Regions from separate parts of the Homo sapiens genome. Here all the other regions are reported to be linked to region 4. The links are microRNA targets in miRTarBase. Many come from high-throughput screens and were not tested one by one. Region 4 holds a microRNA gene; each other region holds the end of a gene's coding sequence.
Evidence for each region. The annotated mature microRNA hsa-miR-8052 reads CGGGACUGUAGAGGGCAUGAGC and lies in region 4 at 2,184-2,205, opposite strand. An mRNA with a match to its seed (bases 2 to 7 or 8) in the 3' UTR can be bound and repressed. Matches are read on the target gene's strand: a 7mer-m8 pairs with bases 2 to 8, a 7mer-A1 pairs with bases 2 to 7 and ends in A, and an 8mer does both.

Region 1: the mRNA of ADAP2 is a reported target of hsa-miR-8052. Seed matches in the 3' UTR shown: 7mer-A1 at 1,854-1,860.
Region 2: miRTarBase lists ZNF563 as a target of hsa-miR-8052. Seed matches in the 3' UTR shown: 7mer-A1 at 2,567-2,573.
Region 3: miRTarBase lists NUCB1 as a target of hsa-miR-8052. Seed matches in the 3' UTR shown: 8mer at 1,313-1,320.
Region 5: miRTarBase lists TLR10 as a target of hsa-miR-8052. Seed matches in the 3' UTR shown: 7mer-A1 at 2,267-2,273.
Region 6: miRTarBase lists SLC25A33 as a target of hsa-miR-8052. Seed matches in the 3' UTR shown: 7mer-A1 at 1,671-1,677.

What each region holds. Positions count from the first base shown.
Region 1 is chr17:30,957,301-30,960,627 of GRCh38, reverse strand. It overlaps ADAP2 (ArfGAP with dual PH domains 2), which reads right to left. Exons shown (of 11, transcript NM_018404.3): 11 at 1,306-2,793. The coding sequence ends at 2,759. It also overlaps a transcript of RNF135 not described here and the pseudogene RN7SL138P. Among named protein-coding and RNA genes, the nearest start is that of RNF135, 12 kb to the left of the region's middle. RefSeq lists a silencer at 106-155 and an enhancer at 2,282-2,781.
Region 2 is chr19:12,315,569-12,318,895 of GRCh38, forward strand. It overlaps ZNF563 (zinc finger protein 563), which reads right to left. Exons shown (of 4, transcript NM_145276.3): 4 at 1,909-3,327. The coding sequence ends at 3,026. Among named protein-coding and RNA genes, the nearest start is that of ZNF563, 16 kb to the right of the region's middle.
Region 3 is chr19:48,921,858-48,924,857 of GRCh38, forward strand. NUCB1 (nucleobindin 1) reads left to right here. Exons shown (of 13, transcript NM_006184.6): 12 at 1-75; 13 at 461-1,515. The coding sequence ends at 567. Among named protein-coding and RNA genes, the nearest start is that of NUCB1-AS1, 4.5 kb to the left of the region's middle. RefSeq lists an enhancer at 879-1,378.
Region 4 is chr11:130,665,623-130,668,949 of GRCh38, reverse strand. It overlaps MIR8052 (microRNA 8052), which reads right to left and starts at 2,215; the gene lies at 2,147-2,215.
Region 5 is chr4:38,770,489-38,773,815 of GRCh38, forward strand. TLR10 (toll like receptor 10) reads right to left here. Exons shown (of 4, transcript NM_030956.4): 4 at 1,750-3,327. The coding sequence ends at 2,667. Among named protein-coding and RNA genes, the nearest start is that of TLR10, 11 kb to the right of the region's middle.
Region 6 is chr1:9,582,204-9,585,203 of GRCh38, forward strand. It overlaps SLC25A33 (solute carrier family 25 member 33), which reads left to right. Exons shown (of 7, transcript NM_032315.3): 7 at 96-2,970. The coding sequence ends at 298. Among named protein-coding and RNA genes, the nearest start is that of TMEM201, 5.2 kb to the right of the region's middle.

The DNA.
Region 1 (3,327 bases), not on the chromosome of region 4:
TGCCACGGGGCAGGGGAAGGGTGTGGCTACAAGGGAGTTTTGGGGTGTGACATAACTGTTCTTTGCTGAAGCAGAGTCTCACTCTGTCACCCAGGCTGGAGTGCAGTGGTGAGACCATAGCTCACTGCAGTCTTGAAATCTCAGGCTTAAGTGGGAGTTCAGCCTTGAGTAGCTGGGACTACAGGCACATGCCACCATGCCTGGCTTTTTTTTTTTTCTTTTTCTTTTTCTTTTTTTGAGACGGAGTCTCACTCTGTCGCCAGGCTGGAGTGCAGTGGCGCAATCTTGGTTCACTGCAACCTCCGCCTGCCGGGTTCAAGCGATTCTCCTGCCTCAGCTTCCTGAGTAGCTGGGACTACAGGCACGTGCCACCACAGTCAGCTAATTTTTGTATTTTTAGTAGAGACGGGGTTTCACCATGTTGGCCAGGATGGTCTTGATCTCCTGACCTCATGATCTGCCTGCCTCGGCCTCCCAAAGTGCTAGGATTATAGGCGTGAGCCACCGTGCCCGGCCAATAAATTTCTTTCTATAGCCATATATATATATATGTATATCATTGGTTCTGTTTCTCTGGAGAACGCTAATACAAGTGAAGTGTGATTCAAATTTTCTTTTCTTTTTCTTTTTTTTTTTTTTGGAGACGGAGTCTCACTCTGTCACCCAGGCTGGAGTGCATAACCCCCCAGGCCCAAGCAAGCCTCCCACCTCTGCCTCCTGAGTAGCTGGGACTACAGGCATGCATTACAGTGCCCATGCCTAGCTATTTTCTTTTTTTAGACGGAGTTTCCCTCTTGTCGCCCAGGCTGCAGTGCAATGGCTGTTCACAGGCATGATCCCTCTACTGACCAGCACGGAAGTGCTTCATTTCTGATCTGGGCCAGTTCACCCCTCCTTAGGCAAACTGGTGATTCCTCACTCCTGGGAGGTCACCATGTTGATGCCAAATTTAGTGTGGACACCCAATTAGCATTGTGCACTAAAGCCCAGAACTCCTGGGCTCAAATGATCTTCCCACCTCACCCTCCCCAGTAGCTAGGACTACAGGCACGTGCACACCTGATATCTCTGAGCCTTTACACATGCTTCTTTCTCTGCCTCCTCCCACCCCAACCCAACTATCTTCTACTCTTTCTTCAGGATTCAGCATAGGTATCATCTCTTTTAGAGAACTTTATCTGTCAGGACTGATTCAAGTAATAGAAACTTCCTTGCACTAACAAGCCAAAAAGGGAAAAAGGGATTTAATATAAGAGTATAGAAGCATACTCTTCCTTGAGGAAGGAATCATCCAAAACCAAGCACTCCATTTCATTAGGACTTTATCTCTTGTGTCTGTTCTTTCCCACCCTTAGAATCCCAGTTGGCCTCTTCAAGTAGCTTTGTTACTGCCTATCTATACTTCTCGTTCTTCTCCTCTAGACCATAAGTTCCTTGAAGGCAAGACTGTACCTTTATTAATTTCCTCATCCCCAGAACTTAGCAGAGTACACCCAACAGAGTTCACAGGTGGTCAAAGAGGCAGACAAGTAAACTGGCCCTTAATGCACAACCCAGCAAGTGTCCTTGAAAATGCACATTTTCAAGGTGCTTCCAGAGCCAGAGGAGATAGAGAGGACTCACCTCCCTATCTGGGCAGTCGAGAAGCTTCAGGAAGGACACAGGCTTACGCATTGCTTATCCTTTGATTGGGGGATCCAAAGGAAAGTCCCATACAATGCATAGATTTTTTTTTTTTTTGAGATAGGGTCTCACTCTGTCACCCAGGCTAAGTAAAGTGGTGCAATGAGGGGTCACTGTAGCCATGACCTCCCTGGCTCAAGTGATCCTCTCACATCAGTGTCCGGAGTAGCTGGGACTACAGGCATTCATTACCATGTCCAGCTAATTTTTTTTTCTTTGTAGAGATGGGGTCTCACTATGTTGCCCAGGCTCTTCTCGAACTCCTGGTCTCAATCCTCCTGCCTCAGCTTCCCAAAGGGCTGGGATTATGGGCATGAGCCATCACACCCAGCCACGGAGAATCAGAGAGTCTCTTAAGAGACCTCCCAGCTCCTTGGGTCTCCATTGAAGCAAAGAGAGAACATCCAGTGTATTTCTGCGTGGTGCTTGAAGACAGAGGAAAGGAACAACGAGTCACAGAGCAGGGGACTTGGTGCTCTGTTTCTCTAACATTTCAGCCATCTGAGATTTCATTCAGTTCCTCTTTTTCTTTCTGATACGGAGTCTCGCTCTGTCACCCAGGCTGGAATGCAATGGCGCAATCTCACTGCGCCCGGCCATTGACTACTTTATCTTTCACTCTTCATTTTTGAAGAGTCTGGGTCAGATGTTTAGCAGAATGCCCCTAATGTGGATTTGTCTGATTATTTCCTCATGGTTAGATTCAGATTAAACTTTTTTTTTTTTTTTACAAGATGCCACTTGCATGATGCTGTGGGTGCCTTTTCATTGCAATGCCTCCATTTCAGATGTGAGAAAGTTCTGGGCCTGTAGGGCATTTCAAGCCTAGGTGTGTATGGGGGAGGAGGGGATAGATGTTCATCTATGCACCAGATCCTCAGATCCCCGAGGTGGGTTGCGGGGAAGGCCCAGGGAGCTGATGGATAAAGCCACAGCTTCAGTCCTGGCAGAGTTCACTGCCAGGAATGGCTGCTGACTGCGGGGCACTGATGGTGGGCAGCCAGGGCCGAGGTGCAAACTTCTTCCCACAAGGAGTTCCAGGTGTTCAGTGGCAGCCAGTTCCTCAGTTAATGGGTCACCTGCTGCTGCGGCCACTCTCTGTTGATGCAGCTGCAAGGGAAATGAAGAGGGCTGAGGGAGGTGGCCATGCCAATGCTGTCCTGTGGAGGAGAGGGACAGCAAAGGGACAGGCGTACAAAGACAGAGGGAGCCATGGCCGGGCACAGTGGCTCATGCCTGTAATCCCAGCACTTTGGGAGGCCGAGGCAGGTGGATCACTTGAGCTCAGGAGTTCGAGACCAGCCTGAGCAACATGGTGAAACTCTGTCTCTACCAAAAATACAAAACAAATTAGCTAGATGTGGTGTCACGAGCCTGTAGTCCCAGCTACTTGGGAGGCTGAGGTGAGAGGATTGCCTGAGCCCAGGAAGAAGAGGTTGCAGTGAGCTGAGATCGCACCACTGCACTCCAGCCTGGGTGACAGTGCAAGACCCCACCTCAAAAAAAGAAAATTAAAAAAAAAAACACAAAGACAGAGGGAGCCAGAATAAAAAACAGAATGAAAGAGTGAGAGCCAGGGCGTCAGAGGGAATGCACACACCAGCAAAGGAGAGAAAAGTGGAGGGACAGAGACAGAGAGAAACC
Region 2 (3,327 bases), not on the chromosome of region 4:
TGTAATCCCAGCTACTTGGGAGGCTGAGGCATGAGAATCGCTTGAACCCAGGAGGCAGTGTTTGCAGTGAGCCGAGATCGTGCCACTGCACTCCAGCCTGGGTGACAGAGTGAGACTCAGTCTCAATAAATAAATAAAGAGGCAGTGCCATAAGTGGTGGCTCATGCCTGTAATCCCAGCATTCTGAGAGGCCAAGGCAGGCAGATCACTTGAAGTCACAGGGAGTTCAAAACCAGCTTGGCAAACATGGCGAAACCCTGTCTCTACTAAAAATACAAAAATTAGCTGGGCATGGTGGTGCATGCCTGTATTCCCAGCTACTTGGGTGGCTGAGGCAGGAGGATCACTTGAACTTGGGAGGTGGAGGTTGCAGTGAGCTGAGATTGTAATCCCAGCTCCTCAGGTGGCTGATGCAGGAGGATCACTTGAACCTGGGAGGTGGAGGCTGCAGTGAGCTGAGATTGCACCACTGCACTTCAGCCTCAGCGACAGAGTGAGACTCTGTCTGAAAAAAAAAAAAAGAAGCAGTGCTATAGATTTTGATACTTGAAAAATCTGAAGGCTGGGTGTGGTGGCTCACCCTGTAATCCTAGTAATTTGGGAGGCCAAGGCAGGCAGATCTCTTGATTCCAGGAGTTCAAGACCAGCCTGGGAAACATGGTGAAACCTTGTCTCCACAAAAAACACAAAAAGTAGCCAGGCATCGTGATGTGTGCCTATAATCCCAGCTACTTGGGAGGCTGAGGTGGGAAGATCACTTGAGCCCAGGAAGTTGAGGCTGCAGTGAGCCATGCACTGTAGGGTGACAGAGTGAGATCTTGTCTTAAAAAAAAAAAAAAAGAAAAGAAAAAGAAAAAAAAAGAAAAATTGGAAGCAGTTTTAGGGCACCTACAGCTTCTACAAGGCGCAAGTGTTAAAGATTATCATCCTCAATTAAGATTCTTCCATGGAACAAAGCCTCCATGTCACCCCAGAGATTACATGCTCACAAACGTTGCAAAGTTTAAAAAAAAAAAAACTAGCTTCCTACAATGTTTCTAATTAAATATCTGCAAATATGAAGACAGCCTTCAATGCTTAAAGATCTTCAGTCCTCAAATTGAACAGATTCTGACATTAGTATTATTTAGACTGCTCCAAAAATTCAGTATCTGCAGTCAGAATCTGTTTCTTCCAATATAGTTGATCATGTTGACATCCTGTCAAGATTCGAGTTAGCCTGAGGTCTCACTGCTTATCTGTGGTGTCACACATCTAGCTGACTCAACACATCACAACATTAGGCACGATATTGCAATAATCATCATTACACTTTTGTTGGGTGAATGTTAACACATTTTCAGGTCATTAAACAAAAGCAATCTATGAGTGTTGAAAGAAAAGATTTATAATGCTCTAGGTGACATGTATTATGTGGGTGGGTCTGTACTGAATATGTGTAGGGTCTTTCTCATATCATGATTCACTAAACAATATAATAACAACTATTTACATAGCTTCTATGATGCATGATGTATTTTAACTAATCTACAGATGATTTAGAGTATACAGGAGGATGTGGGTAGGTTACATGCAAATATTTTTTATTGTTATTATTTTTTTGAGACAGGGTCTCATTCTGTTGCCCATGCTAGAATGCAGTGATGTGATTTTGACTCACCGCAACCTCAACCTCCCAGGCTCAAGCGATCCTCCCACCTCAGCTTCCCTAGTAGCTGGGACTACAGGTACATGTCACCACACCTGGCTAATTTGTGTATCTTCTGTAGAGACAGGGTTTTGCCACATTACCCAGGCTGGCCTCTAACTCCTGGGCTCAAGTGATCCACCTGTCTTGGGCTCCTAAGGTGCTAGGATTACAGAGGTGAGCAACTGTGTCTAACCCAAATATGTCTTTTCTTTCTTTCCTTTTTTTTTTTTTTTGTGTGTGTGACAGAGGTTGTTTTGCTCTTGCTGCCCAGGCTGGAGTGCAGTGGCGCGATCTTGGCTCACCGCAACCTCCGCCTCCCGGATTCAAGTGATTATCCTGCCTCAGCCTCCTGAGTAGCTGGGATTACAGGCATGTGCCATCACATCCGGGTAATTTTGTACCAAATATGTCATTTTTAAAAAAGGACTTGGCATGTGTCGATTTATGTATGCCCAGGGGGTGGTAGAACCACGCTCCTGCAAATATTAGGGGATAACTGTATTTGAAAGAAACTGAGGCTTAAAATTAAGGCTTTACTATGTGTTTACATTCATAGGGTTTATCTCCAATGAGAATTATTTCTATCTGAAATGAAATAACATTAAAGAATACTTCCCTACATTTCACACATTTATAGAGTATCTCTCCAGTGAGTCCTTTTATGTCTATGCAAGGACCTGAGAGAACTCAATGCTTTTCTACATTTCTTACATTCATATGACTTCTCTCCAGAGTGAATCCTTTCATGTACTTTTTTTTTTTTTTTGAGACAGGGTCTGGCTCTGTCGCCCAGGCTGGGGTGCAGTGCATCTTGGCTCACTGCAACCCCCACCCCTTGGGCTCAAGAGATCTTCCCACCTCAGCCTCCCAAGTAGCTGGGACTACAGGGGCATACCACCACACCTGCTACTTTTTCTATTTTTTGTAGAGACATGGTTTCACCATTTTGCCCAGGCAGGCCTCAAATTCCTGAGGTCAAGCAATTTGCCCACCCTAAGTGCTGGGATTACAGGCGTGAGCCACTGTGCCCAGCCTCATGTACTTTTAAGTTACCAAAATGACTGAAGGCTTCCCTACATATTTTACACTCACAGAGTTTTTCTGCTCTGTGAGTTGTTTTATGTTGACAATGGTGTTAAAAAAAAATCGATCACTTTCCCACATTCCTTATATCATACAGCATCTCTCCAGTGTGAGATATTTCATGATTTTGAAAGGAATAAAAATTATGAAAGGCTTTCCCACATTTACATTTATAGGGTTTCTGTCCAGTGTAAGTTTATTCATGATATCAAAGGGAACTGGAAATATAGAAGGCTTTATAATAGTTTACATTCATATTGTTTCTCTCCAGTGAGTCTTTTCATGTCTTTGACATACACTGGGATAAACAAAGGCTTTCCCACATACCTTGCATTTATTCGGCCCATCTCCCGTATGCATTACCATATGTCTTCGAAAGCTTGAGCTATGAGATAACGCTTTCCCACACTGCTTGCATTCATAGGGTTTCTCTCCACTGTGAGACTTTTCGTGTCTTTGACATACACTAGGATAAACAAAAGCTTTCCCACATATCTTGCATTTATGAGGTCCACCTCCAGTGTGCATTATCATGTGTCTTCGAAAGCTTGAGC
Region 3 (3,000 bases), not on the chromosome of region 4:
AGCAGCAGCAGCAGCAAGGCCACAAGGCCCCGGCTGCCCACCCTGAGGGGCAGCTCAAGTTCCACCCAGACACAGGTGCTGGCCCTAGTCCAGGGAGGAGGGGCTGCAGGGCTGGACCCCTGGGTCTGAGGTTGGAGGGGCTGGGCCTGGACTCCCAGATCTGAGGGAAGAGGGACTGGGGGCCCAGACTCCCAGATCTGAGGGAAGAGGGACTGGGGGTCCGGACTCCTGGGTCTGAGGGAGGAGGGGCTGGGGGCTGGGACCCCTGGGTGTGAGGGAGGAGGGGCTGGGACCCCTGGGTGTGAGTGAGGAGGGGCTGGGGGCTGGACCCCTGGGTGTGAGGGAGGAGGGGCTGGGGGCTGGACCCCTGGGTGTGAGGGAGGAGGGGCTGGGCCTCTGGGGTCCTGGGGGAGGAGGGGTTCGGATGTCCTGTGCCACCATTCCCTCCCTCCATTTCCAGACGATGTACCTGTCCCAGCTCCAGCCGGTGACCAGAAGGAGGTGGACACTTCAGAAAAGAAACTTCTCGAGCGGCTCCCTGAGGTTGAGGTGCCCCAGCATCTGTGATCCTCCGGGACCCCAGCCCTCAGGATTCCTGATGCTCCAAGGCGACTGATGGGCGCTGGATGAAGTGGCACAGTCAGCTTCCCTGGGGGCTGGTGTCATGTTGGGCTCCTGGGGCGGGGGCACGGCCTGGCATTTCACGCATTGCTGCCACCCCAGGTCCACCTGTCTCCACTTTCACAGCCTCCAAGTCTGTGGCTCTTCCCTTCTGTCCTCCGAGGGGCTTGCCTTCTCTCGTGTCCAGTGAGGTGCTCAGTGATCGGCTTAACTTAGAGAAGCCCGCCCCCTCCCCTTCTCCGTCTGTCCCAAGAGGGTCTGCTCTGAGCCTGCGTTCCTAGGTGGCTCGGCCTCAGCTGCCTGGGTTGTGGCCGCCCTAGCATCCTGTATGCCCACAGCTACTGGAATCCCCGCTGCTGCTCCGGGCCAAGCTTCTGGTTGATTAATGAGGGCATGGGGTGGTCCCTCAAGACCTTCCCCTACCTTTTGTGGAACCAGTGATGCCTCAAAGACAGTGTCCCCTCCACAGCTGGGTGCCAGGGGCAGGGGATCCTCAGTATAGCCGGTGAACCCTGATACCAGGAGCCTGGGCCTCCCTGAACCCCTGGCTTCCAGCCATCTCATCGCCAGCCTCCTCCTGGACCTCTTGGCCCCCAGCCCCTTCCCCACACAGCCCCAGAAGGGTCCCAGAGCTGACCCCACTCCAGGACCTAGGCCCAGCCCCTCAGCCTCATCTGGAGCCCCTGAAGACCAGTCCCACCCACCTTTCTGGCCTCATCTGACACTGCTCCGCATCCTGCTGTGTGTCCTGTTCCATGTTCCGGTTCCATCCAAATACACTTTCTGGAACAAATGCATGGCTCCATGCCTGTGTATCTGGACTGGTCCCTCCAAAACGCTATTGCCACGTCACCTGCCGGAGTCCTCATCTTTGAAGACTGGATTCAAGCATCACTTCTGAGAGGCTCAATCCTGGTATTTTTCCATCTGCCCCTGATGAGTCTGCAGCCTTCACTCAGGGTCCCTTCAGCCACAAGGACAGAAAACCCAAACCTGGGATTAAGCAATTTTTTTTTTTTTTTTTTTTGAGATGGAGTCTTACTCTGTCACCCAGGCTGGAGGGCAGTGGTGTAATCTCAGCTCACTGCAACCTCTGCCTTTTGGGATCAAGCGATTCTCCTGCCTCCGCCTCCCGAGTAGCTGGGATTACAGCTGCCTGCCACCACGCCCGGCCTTCTAATTTTTGCATTGTTTTAGTAGTGATGGGGGTTTCACCATATTGGCCAGGCTGGTCTTGAACTCCTGACATCATGATCTGCCCACCTTAGCCTCCCAAAGTGCTGGGATTACAGGAGTGAGCCACTGCACCTGGCCGGGATTAAGCAACTTTTAAAAGATGAATTTGGCCAGGTGCTGTGGCTCACGCCTGTAATCCCAACACTTCGAAAGGCCAAGATAGGGGGGATCACTTGAGGCCAGGAGTTCAAGACCAGCCTGGTCAACATGGCAAAACCCCATCTCTACTAAAAATACAAAGATGAGCCGGGTGTGGTGGTGGGCACTTGTAATCCCAGCTACTCGGGAGGCTGAGGCAAGAGAATTGCTTGATCCTGGGAGGCGGAGGTTGCAGCGAGCCAAGATTGCACCACTGCACTCCAACCGGAGTACCAGAGCAAGATTCCATCTCAAAAAAAAAAAAAAGAATGTACCAGGTATGGTGGCTCCACCTGTAGTCCCAGCACTTTAGAAGGCAGAGGCGGATAGATCACGAGGTCAGGAGATGGAGACCATCCCGGCTAACACGGTGAAACCCTTTCTCTACTAAAAATACTAAAAAAATTAGCTGGGCGTGGTGGCAGGCACCTGTAGTCCCAGCTACTCAGGAGGCTGAGGCAGGAGAATTGCTTGAACCCAGGAGGCAGAGGTTGCAGTGAGCCGAGATCATGCCACTGCACTCCAGCCTGGGTGACAGAGCGAGACTCTGTCTGAAAAAAAGAAGGCTGAGGCAAGAGGATCACTTGAGCTTAGGAGTTTGAGACCAGCCTGGGCAACATAGCGAGACCCCGTCTCAGAAAAAGAAAAAAAATTAGCTGGGCATGGTAGTGTGTGCCTGTAGTCTCAGCTGCTTAGGAGGCTGGTGTGGGAGGATCCCTTGAGCCCTGGAGTTTGAGGCTGCAGTGAGCCATGATCTATCACTCCACTGCACTCCAGGCTGGGTGACAGAATGAGGCCCTGTCTCTAATAGAAAAAAGAATAAATAAAAATGAATTATGATAAAAACCAAGATGTCCCAAGGCAGGATGACTTCAGGGAACCAGGTTCTCGCATCCCCTAGCTGTGCCAAGGATAGGTTTGGGGGCTGGACCCCCCCTCATGGTCCCAAGGTAGCTGCAGCTGCTCCAGATGTCACCAACAGCCAGTGAAGGAAGAGGCCGCATT
Region 4 (3,327 bases):
TTAAACAAGGGAGTGACTTGACCACATGGCATGTTTTAAAAAGCTATCTCCACGGCTCCAGTATGCTGACTGCAGACCAGAAGTCCAACTAGGAGGGTCCTGAAGCAATTTGGGGTGCCTGTGATTATTGAATAAAGGAACAGCATTGGGGATTCAGAGACAAGAATAGACTCAAGGGACATTTAGAAATTACTATCCATAGAACCTGGTTATTGATTGGACATCACATATAAAGGAGAAGCTAGAGTCAAAAACCACACTTAAGTTTGTAGCTTGGATACCTGAGTTTTTGGTGGTGATTCCTCTAAGATAGAAGACAAAATGGAGGAATTCAGCCTGGGTGGAAAGATGCTGAACTCAATTTTGGACATATTGAGCCTCACAATCTTGTGAGACATTCACATAAAGGTGTTGAGTGTCTGGTTGGATTCATGTGTGTGATGCTCAGAAGAACATCTTGGGCTGAATACTTAGATTTGTGAGTAATCAATACACAGAAAGAAATTCAAGCCATTACAATAAATAAAATGGCCTGCCTGAGATACAGAATGAAACGTTGGCCTAAGAGAAGATATCTAAAAGATTGTCATGAATCAATAAGAAAATGACAATAAACCCAATAAAATGTGCAAAATACATTTTTAAAATATTTCACACAAGAAGAAAACCATAAAAAAAAGCATGAAAAGATTCTTCACTGCCCTACTAGTCAAGGGTACGCAATTGCATTTCCACAATGAGATAGTTTTTATGCCACTAGATTGACAAAAATTAATATCTGACAATGTCAAATAAGGATTTGAAAAGGTTTATACTTTACTGGTGAGATTGTATAATTGCTTTGGAAAACATTTCAGCATTATCTTGTGAAGCATACCACATAATTCTACTCCTAGGTATCCACCCTAGAGAAACTCTTGAATATGTGCACCAGGAGACATATTCAAAAGTGACTTCAGGACCTTTGTTCATAATAGTACAATACTAAAGGCAACCTAAAGAGTCAACAGCAGAGAATGGATAAGGGGCAATGTATCCATGAAAAGTATCATAATAAAGCAGTAGAAAAAAATGAATTGCACACATGTGTGAGAACATTAAGGAATCTTAGAAACATGATGTTGAATGGAAAAGGAAAGAACCCAGAAGACTTTGATTTATTCAGTTGGTGCGAACGTAATTGCAAAAACCTCATTACGTTTGCATCAACCTAATAGATATTATTTTAATAAACCTAAAAATAAGCAAAACTGGGCAAAATATTATTTACATATGCATGCATTTGGGATAAAACAAAACAAAAAATCAAAAGAATAATTCTAAAATTCAGGATAGTGGTTCTCTCTGTGCGGAAAAGAAAAGCAGGACACAGAAGGAGGTTAGGAGCAGAAGTGAGGGTGGATACGAGTTACTGGGAATGGACTTGTCCTTTGCTTGACTGCTGGGTTCAGAAATGTTCATCATACTATATTTTGTAACTTACACATATTATAAATAGTCTCAAATAGCATACTAAAATTAATACAAAAAATGAAAAAAATCGCACTTAGAGTTACAATTTTTTTCATCCTAATTAAGACAGACTTCTGGATTTAAGGACTGCATGAGTTTACTCTTTTGTTAAAATTGCTTTTACCAAAATTTTAGGACTTTAACTTCCTCCCTAGGTGGAAATATATGGCCCAACCACAGGACACACCAAGGACCATGGAGTGTGCATTTTGGGGTAATAAATTACCCTTGGCTTCCTTTTACTCACTGTATTTCCCATCACTCTGACTCATTCAATTATTTATTTCCACTCATTTGTATTGTGTGCATTTGTATAAGCCACCTCAGATTCTTTGTAGAATGAGGTGCAAGTATTCAAAATTAAAACATTCTACCCCATGAGGGTAGAAAAAAAACCTCAAAATTCTGTCATACTTTTTCCCATTTATGGCAGGAAATGCAGAAAAGTGGCCAATTCCTTTCCTCCAGATGGCAGGCTGCGGCTAAAAGTCTAACAGCACTCCCTGACAGCCTGGAGGTGGCCAGAAAAGCCACACACAGGCTGCAAGAGAGGATGTGTGGCCCACCAAGCCCTGGCACTCTGGATTCTCAGCCAGAGTCTTAATTAAATCAGATACCATTTTGAGAAGGCTTCCAGAGGCCTTGCACCATGAGCTGGCCTGAGCTCCTGAGCTCATGCCCTCTACAGTCCCGCAGCCCTCCAGACCAGGGAGACAAGGGATCTCCTACGGCTGGCACCCTCCTTCATTACCCACAGATGCCCAGTTGTGCCTGTCCCACAGAATAATAATAGGCCACTCTATCCAAAGTTGCCATATCCAATGAGATACAACCCAATTGCCAGGGAAGCTGCTCCTGCCTGCATTGTACCTAATTTGTTGGCCACAGGAAGGGTTTTCTGCATCCCAGAGAAGGTCAGGATCATTAGTTTCTGACTCTATATCAGTGTAGTAAAACTTAAAGAAGTCATAGTTCCAGTCCTGATTTAGCTTGGCTGGATCCCCACCCACCCAGTCCAAGGGGACTCCAGAAAATAAACTAGGCATTTATACCCACTGTTGAGGAAGAATCTGCTTCAAGCCACAAGGTGAGGGCTGGAGAAGCTTCCATTAGCCATTATTCGCCAGCCATGGTATCCCTAATCACACAGATGGCTATGACCCATAAGTCTCTTTAATAACACTGTCCACTGTTTCCCATGAGATGTCTACCATCAGATTGCCTATAAGAATAGTTTCAGATGAAGAAGGAGGAGGAAGAAGAGAAAGAGAAAGAAAAAGAGGAAAAGGAAGAGGAGGAGGAGGAGGGGGAGGAAAAGGAAGACGAGGAGGGACAGGAAGAGGAGGAAGAACTACATATCCTCACATGATGTGTATGGCTGTGAGATTGACGCATTCCACAAGCTCTGCACCTACACCAATATATTAAAATCACACTGGAGCGGGGACCTCCGCAGATCCTCCTTCTCCCTGTATAAGCCCCAGTGAACTTCGTAATTTTTTTTAAGTTGGAGGGACAAAAGAAGTTGCCTCTTCCAGGCATATTCAGATCTCAAGATAGTCATCATTCTTTACCACCACCTCTTCCTACAATCTCTTGAACCAGCTCTGTGCAGGATGAGCCTTTATGAAATTCATGCTCAGAGGCACCCACAACTTTGTCTCTAGAAAAATGATGAGTGGAGGATGGGCTTCTAAATGTGCTCAACTCATTTTGAATGCACAAGAAAGCCATTTGGCCCATGTGACATCTCAGCTATCTTCCAGAACTTACTGAATGGCAACTTTGAAGAGCCCCTGTCCTGAGGGCTTGGGA
Region 5 (3,327 bases), not on the chromosome of region 4:
GCAGAAGAACATGACGAAACTTGACTGGGCTAGCCTCCCAGCCTACATCTTTCACCCATGCTGGATGCTTCCTGCCCTCAAACATTGCACTCCAAGTTCTTCAGCTTTGGGACTTGGACTGGCTTCCTTGCTCCTCAGCTTGCAGATGGTCTACCGTGGGACCTTGTAATTGTGTGTGTCAATACTCCTTAATAAGCTCATATATATATATATCTCCTATTATATATATATATCTCCTATTATATATATATCTCCTATTATATATATCCTATATATATAATATCCTATTATATATATCCTATATATATATAATATCCTATTATATATATCCTATATATATATAATATCCTATTATATATATAAAGTATATATATTTATATATACTTTATATATATTTGTATATATATCCTATATAGCTCCTATATATATCCTATTATATATATATCCTATTTTATATATATATCCTATTTTATATATATATCCTATATGTAATATCCTATTTTATATATATATGTACCTCCTATATATATAGGAGTTTATTAAGGAGTGTTGACCCACACAATTACAAGGTCCCACAATAGACCTTGCAATATATATATATAGATATAGATATAGATATAGATATAGTATTGTGTGATATATATATATATATATATATCCTATTAGTTCTGTCCCTCTAGAGAACCCTAATACAGATGGAATGAGATTTTTAAAAGTAGATGCTTTTCTAGGTCGAGAGCAACCAAATTTTGGCAATTTCACATGACGTGAGCTCTACTTAGGAATCCTACAATTCTGGATTCTCTGTCTTCTTACCTGAGTTTTACCTATTCCTGCTCTTCCTGAGCTTCTCAGAATATGCCTTTAAATTCCACCATCTATCCTTAAGCCAGTTGAGTTCCCACTAAGCTCCTCTAGCCAACCCAACATCCATTCCATAAACATTCTTTGAGCACCAGTTCTGAACCAGGGACTGCTGCAGACACAAGGGCAGATGTAAGTCTGTCTTAGCCTTTGAGGAGTTCATAGTCTAGTGGGAAATTGAAACTTTAAAAATGTACATAATTAGGTTGGTGATAGAAATATGTCCAAAGTGTGGAAGAGAATCAAGAAGCATCATGCTTACGGGAAAGAGTGAGGATGATTTCAAAGAAGAGTCGATATGTGGATTGTGTCCTGAGAGAACTGTAAGATTTCCTGAACAAACCCAAGTAGGGAAGGCATTACAGCAGGCATGATGTGAAATCTGGGCTCTGGAGCCATGAAAGAACACTGAAAGTTCTGGGGAAGGGCCAGTAGCTCCATAGGGCCCAATGATAGGATGCAAGGAGGGGCTGGGTGTGGTGGCTCACACCTGTAATCCCAGCACTTCGGGAGTCCAAGACAGGAGGATCATTTGAGGCCAGGAGCTCAATACTGCAGTGAGCTATGATCGCACCACTGCATTCCAGCCTGGGTGACAGAGCAAGAGCTAGTCTCTAAAAATTAAAAATAAAGAAGATGCAAGGATATAAAAGGAGATTGCTGTCAGATCTTAAAGGAGCATGACATTCTCTCCCTGAATCATGTGTTTAAGCCACAAAATTTTTTTCTAACCAGAGAAGTGACATGATGTTTGTTTTTGAAATATAATTTTGCAAAATTGTCATTTTTGAAATATAATTTTGCAAAAATTATATTTCAGGAGTGCTTTTCTTCCTGTGACCTGTGAGACCAGAAAGAAGAATCAAGCCAAATGAGTAGGATGTGTAGGCTGTAAAAACTATCTTTATTTTTTTTCTACTTATAAAAGAAATACAGATTCATTCTAAACAATTCAAACATTATAGAAATACACAACATAGAAATCAAATGCTCCCTGTAATCCAACCTCCCAGACCCAAACCACTGTTACTACATCTGGTATAGATTTCTTTACACTTTTATTTCAATGCCATTTCAATGGCAAAAACCACAATTAGTTTTGCACCAACCTAATAGTTTATAACATATTAATATGTTTTTTCCATACCAGGAAATATACAGCTACCTTATTCTTTTTAGTGGCATGTAATATTATATTACATTAATGTACTATAATTTATTGAATTAGACCTTATTTTGTGGCCATGAGGATGTTTTCCATTTTTTTCTTTTTTTTTTTTCTTTTTTTTGAGATGGAGTCTCGCTCTGTCACCAGGCTGGAGTGCAGTGGCTCGATCTCAGCTCACTGCAACTGCCACCTCCCGGGTTCAAGCGATTCTCCTGCCTCAGCCTCCCAAGTAGCTGGGACTACAGGCGTGCACCATCACGCCCAGCTAATTTTTGTATTTTTAGTAGAGACAGGGTTTCACCATGTTGGCCAGGATGGTCTCCATCTCTTGACCTCGTGGGTCACCCACCTTGGCCTCCCATAGTGCTGGGATTACAAGAGTGAGCCACTGCACCTGGCCACATTTTTCATGATTATAAACAATCCTGGGATGAACACCTTTTTCCATAAGCCCTTATAAACTTGTGAAGGTGTTTCTATAGGATACATTCTTAGAAATCCTTCTAGAAACTGATATGAAGGGAATAACCATTTTTTATTTTAATAAATATTGTCAAATTGCCATCATAAAGGTTGTATCAATGTACATCCCAACAGTGTATGTGGTCCCCAACTTCCCAAGGACTGTGGGATTTTATAGACAATCTGTTCTCATCAGAGAGATTGTAGAACCTCGAGACTCTTCATTTAACTCTGTGAATGTCTGCAGTTCATACATTTCTCTGGTGGCTAATACATTAACATTAATAGCAGCTCGAAGGTTTGCCCAGAAAAGCCCACATTTACGCCTATCCTTGGGCCATTCCAAGTATGCTTTTTTTTCCAGGAGAGCTTTCAGTTTATGATACCTGGTGGGAATGCAATAGAATGGAATGGGTTCCAGTAAGATAAGAATTATATGATCAGAATTTTCATGGAAGAGATTGTGGTGGGCAAAGTAGAATTCATAATGGCACCACTCATTCTGGACAAAGTTGGGAGACAAAACAAAGATGGACTTATAGCTTTTCTCAATGAAGCTTACAATATTTTCACTAATGCTTTTGCCAGGGTCAAAGTAGCTTTCATAAAGGCAAATCAAGATAGAACCATCTTCCTTCTCTAGATTGGGGATCAATTCATTCTTCACCCACAGAGAATCATGTTCACTGTATGAAATAAATGCGTGGAATCGGACATTTCTCTTGAGTTGTTCTTGGGTTGTTTTCCTAACCCTGTGCCATGTTTGTGTGCATTGACCTAGCATCCTGAGATACCAGGGCAGATCAAAGTGGAGACAGCAGAAGGCCACAGCC
Region 6 (3,000 bases), not on the chromosome of region 4:
GCACCCGGCCTAACCTTGACAGTTTTAAAGTTGTGTGCTGTGGATTCGTTCCCCATTTAATATGTGGCGTAAAGTAGGTCTTTCTCTCTCTGCAGAAGTCATAAGGACGAGGCTCCGGGAAGAGGGCACCAAGTACAAGTCTTTTGTCCAGACGGCGCGCCTGGTGTTCCGGGAAGAAGGCTACCTTGCCTTTTATAGAGGACTGTTTGCCCAGCTTATCCGGCAGATCCCAAATACTGCCATTGTGTTGTCTACTTATGAGTTAATTGTGTACCTGTTAGAAGACCGTACTCAGTAACAGGCCGGAAAATTGTGCTCTAGAAGAATAAAACTGAAAAACTCTAGAGAATTTTTTTTCCCCATTGATGTTTAGAAAGTTTGAGACTGAAACAGGAAAGGCCATAAAATATCTGGTTCATATCACCTGTTGGACATTTCCTTTTGGATTCATGCTTTCTGGAAGGTTTAAATTCATTAACGTTAATAGTTAATTATAACTTTTTTTTTAACTTAAGAGGATTCAGGGTTAAGCACCAACTAAATTAAATCATGCTATTTAATTTAAGTATACATTTGGCTTGTGTCCTCTTTTATGCTCACTATACTATGAAGGACTTAAGTAATTCAGATAAACCTGCCCTAGAACTGCAGAGAAAAATGATAAAGTGAGAATACAACTTGTTTTATAATCTGACTTTAAGATCTTGCACTGCTAGACAGGGAAGAAGTGTCGCATTTTGGCTGGGCACTGTGGCTCACGCCCGTAATCCCAGCACTTTGGGAGGCCGAGGCAGATGGATCACGTGAAGTCAGGAGTTCCAGACCAGCCTGGCCAACATGGCGAAACCCTGTCTCTACTAAAAATACAAAAATTAGCCGGACGTGTGCCTGTAATCCCAGCTACTTGGGAGGCTGAGGCAGGAGAATCACTTGAAACCCAGGGGGCAGAGGTTGCAGCGAGCTGAGATCACGTCACTTCACTCCAGCCTGGTCGACAGAGTGAGACTCCATCTCAAAAAAAAAAAAATTGTGTCACATTTTGGTGGTGGTGTGTGGACCAGGACAAACTTCCCAGCAATTTTTCTTCTTTGTACATTTCCAATTACTTGCAGATTGATCATCTAAGCGTTCAGACTGCTGAGATGAATATATATAACTTTCTGAGACTCAATATTTTAAGCTATAAAAAACTTCCTGAAGTTATCCTTTTCTCCCTACTTTGAACCAAAGGCAAGAATTTTTAAAGAACTGTTTTATCAATGGCCTGGCTCCTGGATATAGTTCCGGAAGTTAAGACCAGTTGCCTTGTTAAGTGTGTTGACAGCACAGCTACCCTGTTTGGCTGTGAATCCAGAATGTGATGAAGAACAGTCATTCCCACTGAGGTCTTTAGCCCTGTTCTTGGACCTCTGCTCTTGCAGAAAAGGAGCACAACGTAGGACTATGGCTCACCCGTCAGAGAGCTCACATTCTGATAGAAAGCACTGGGATTGTTTAAATATCCTAGTTCAACATTAAAAAAAAAAAAAATTTAATCCCAGCACTTTGGGAGGCCAAGGCGGGCAGATCACGAGGTCAGGAGATCGAGACCATCCTGGCTAACACGGTGAAACCCCGTCTCTACTAAAAAAATACAAAAAAATTGGCCATGCGTGGTGGCGGGCACCCATAGTCCCAGCTACTCGGGAGGCTGAGGCAGGAGAATGGCGTGAACCTGGGAGGCGGAGCTTGCAGTGAGCTGAGATGGCGCCACTGCACTCCAGCCTGGGCCACAGAGTGCGACTCCATCTCAAAAAAAAAAAAAAAACCAGGATGTTACCCCCTTGGTTTTAAAGCAAATTTAATAAGGGAACAAAAAGATGATACTAAGAAGAAGGCAAGTAAAACCCCTAGTCTTCCATTAGCTCTTTCACTGGAATTTGAGTATATTGTACATGAAGGTTGGTTTTCAATTTGAACGTCTAGAAAGATACTCATTTCTAATACCTATGCACTGTAGTTTCAGGTTTACTTGCAGACACCCTGGTAGGGTTAAGAGGAGGATATTTCCAAGTTATTTTAAATTGAGTTTACTTTTAACTGGGGTTCTTGACTCTAGTGTAATTGCTCCAACAACTACGTAGAAGTCAAAATGAGTGACTTTAGTGAAGCTTCTGTACTTTACAATACATGACAGTAATGCTATTCCAGAAGTTTTGTTTTGTTTTGTTTTGAGATGGAGTCTCGCTCTGTCTCTCCCAGGCTGGAGTGCAGTGGCACAATCTCGGCTCACTACAGCCTCCACCTCCCGGTTTCAAGCAATTCTCCTGTCTTAGCCTCCTGAGTAGCTGGGACTACAGGCATGCGCCACCACACCTGGCTAATTTTGTATTTTTAGTAGAGATGGGGTTTCACCATGTTGGCCAGGCTGGTCTCAAACTCTTGACCTCAGGTGATCTACCCGCCTCGGCCTCCCAAAGTACTGGGATTACAGGAGGGAGCCACCATACCTGGCCCGCGCCGCCCCTTCCTTTGTTGTTATTGTTGTTTTGAGACAAGGTATCACTCGATCACTGAAGCTGGATACAGTGGCAAGATCATAGCTCACTGTAACCTCAAACTCCTGGGCACAAGGGATCCTCGCATCTCAGCCTCCCAAGTAGCTTGGACCACAGGAAAGTACCACCATGCCCAGCTAATGTTTTTTCATTTTTTGTGCAGACGAGGTTTTGCTATGTTGTCCAGGCTGGTCTCAGACTACTGGCCAGAAGCGATCTTACCTCCTCAGCCTCCCAAAGCACTGGAATTACAGAGTAACATCTAATTTTAATATTCACATTCCTATTTTAATATTCATATTCGATGATGGCACTTAGCAACATCCTCCTATATCCATATTAAAACCTGTTTTCCAAGATTGTGTCTAATATGAAGGTGTAAAATTGCTTTGTTTTCACTCCTTCTTGAATGAATAAATTTGATAGTAACCAATTATAATTTTAGTTTTCTGCTTCTCCTGCC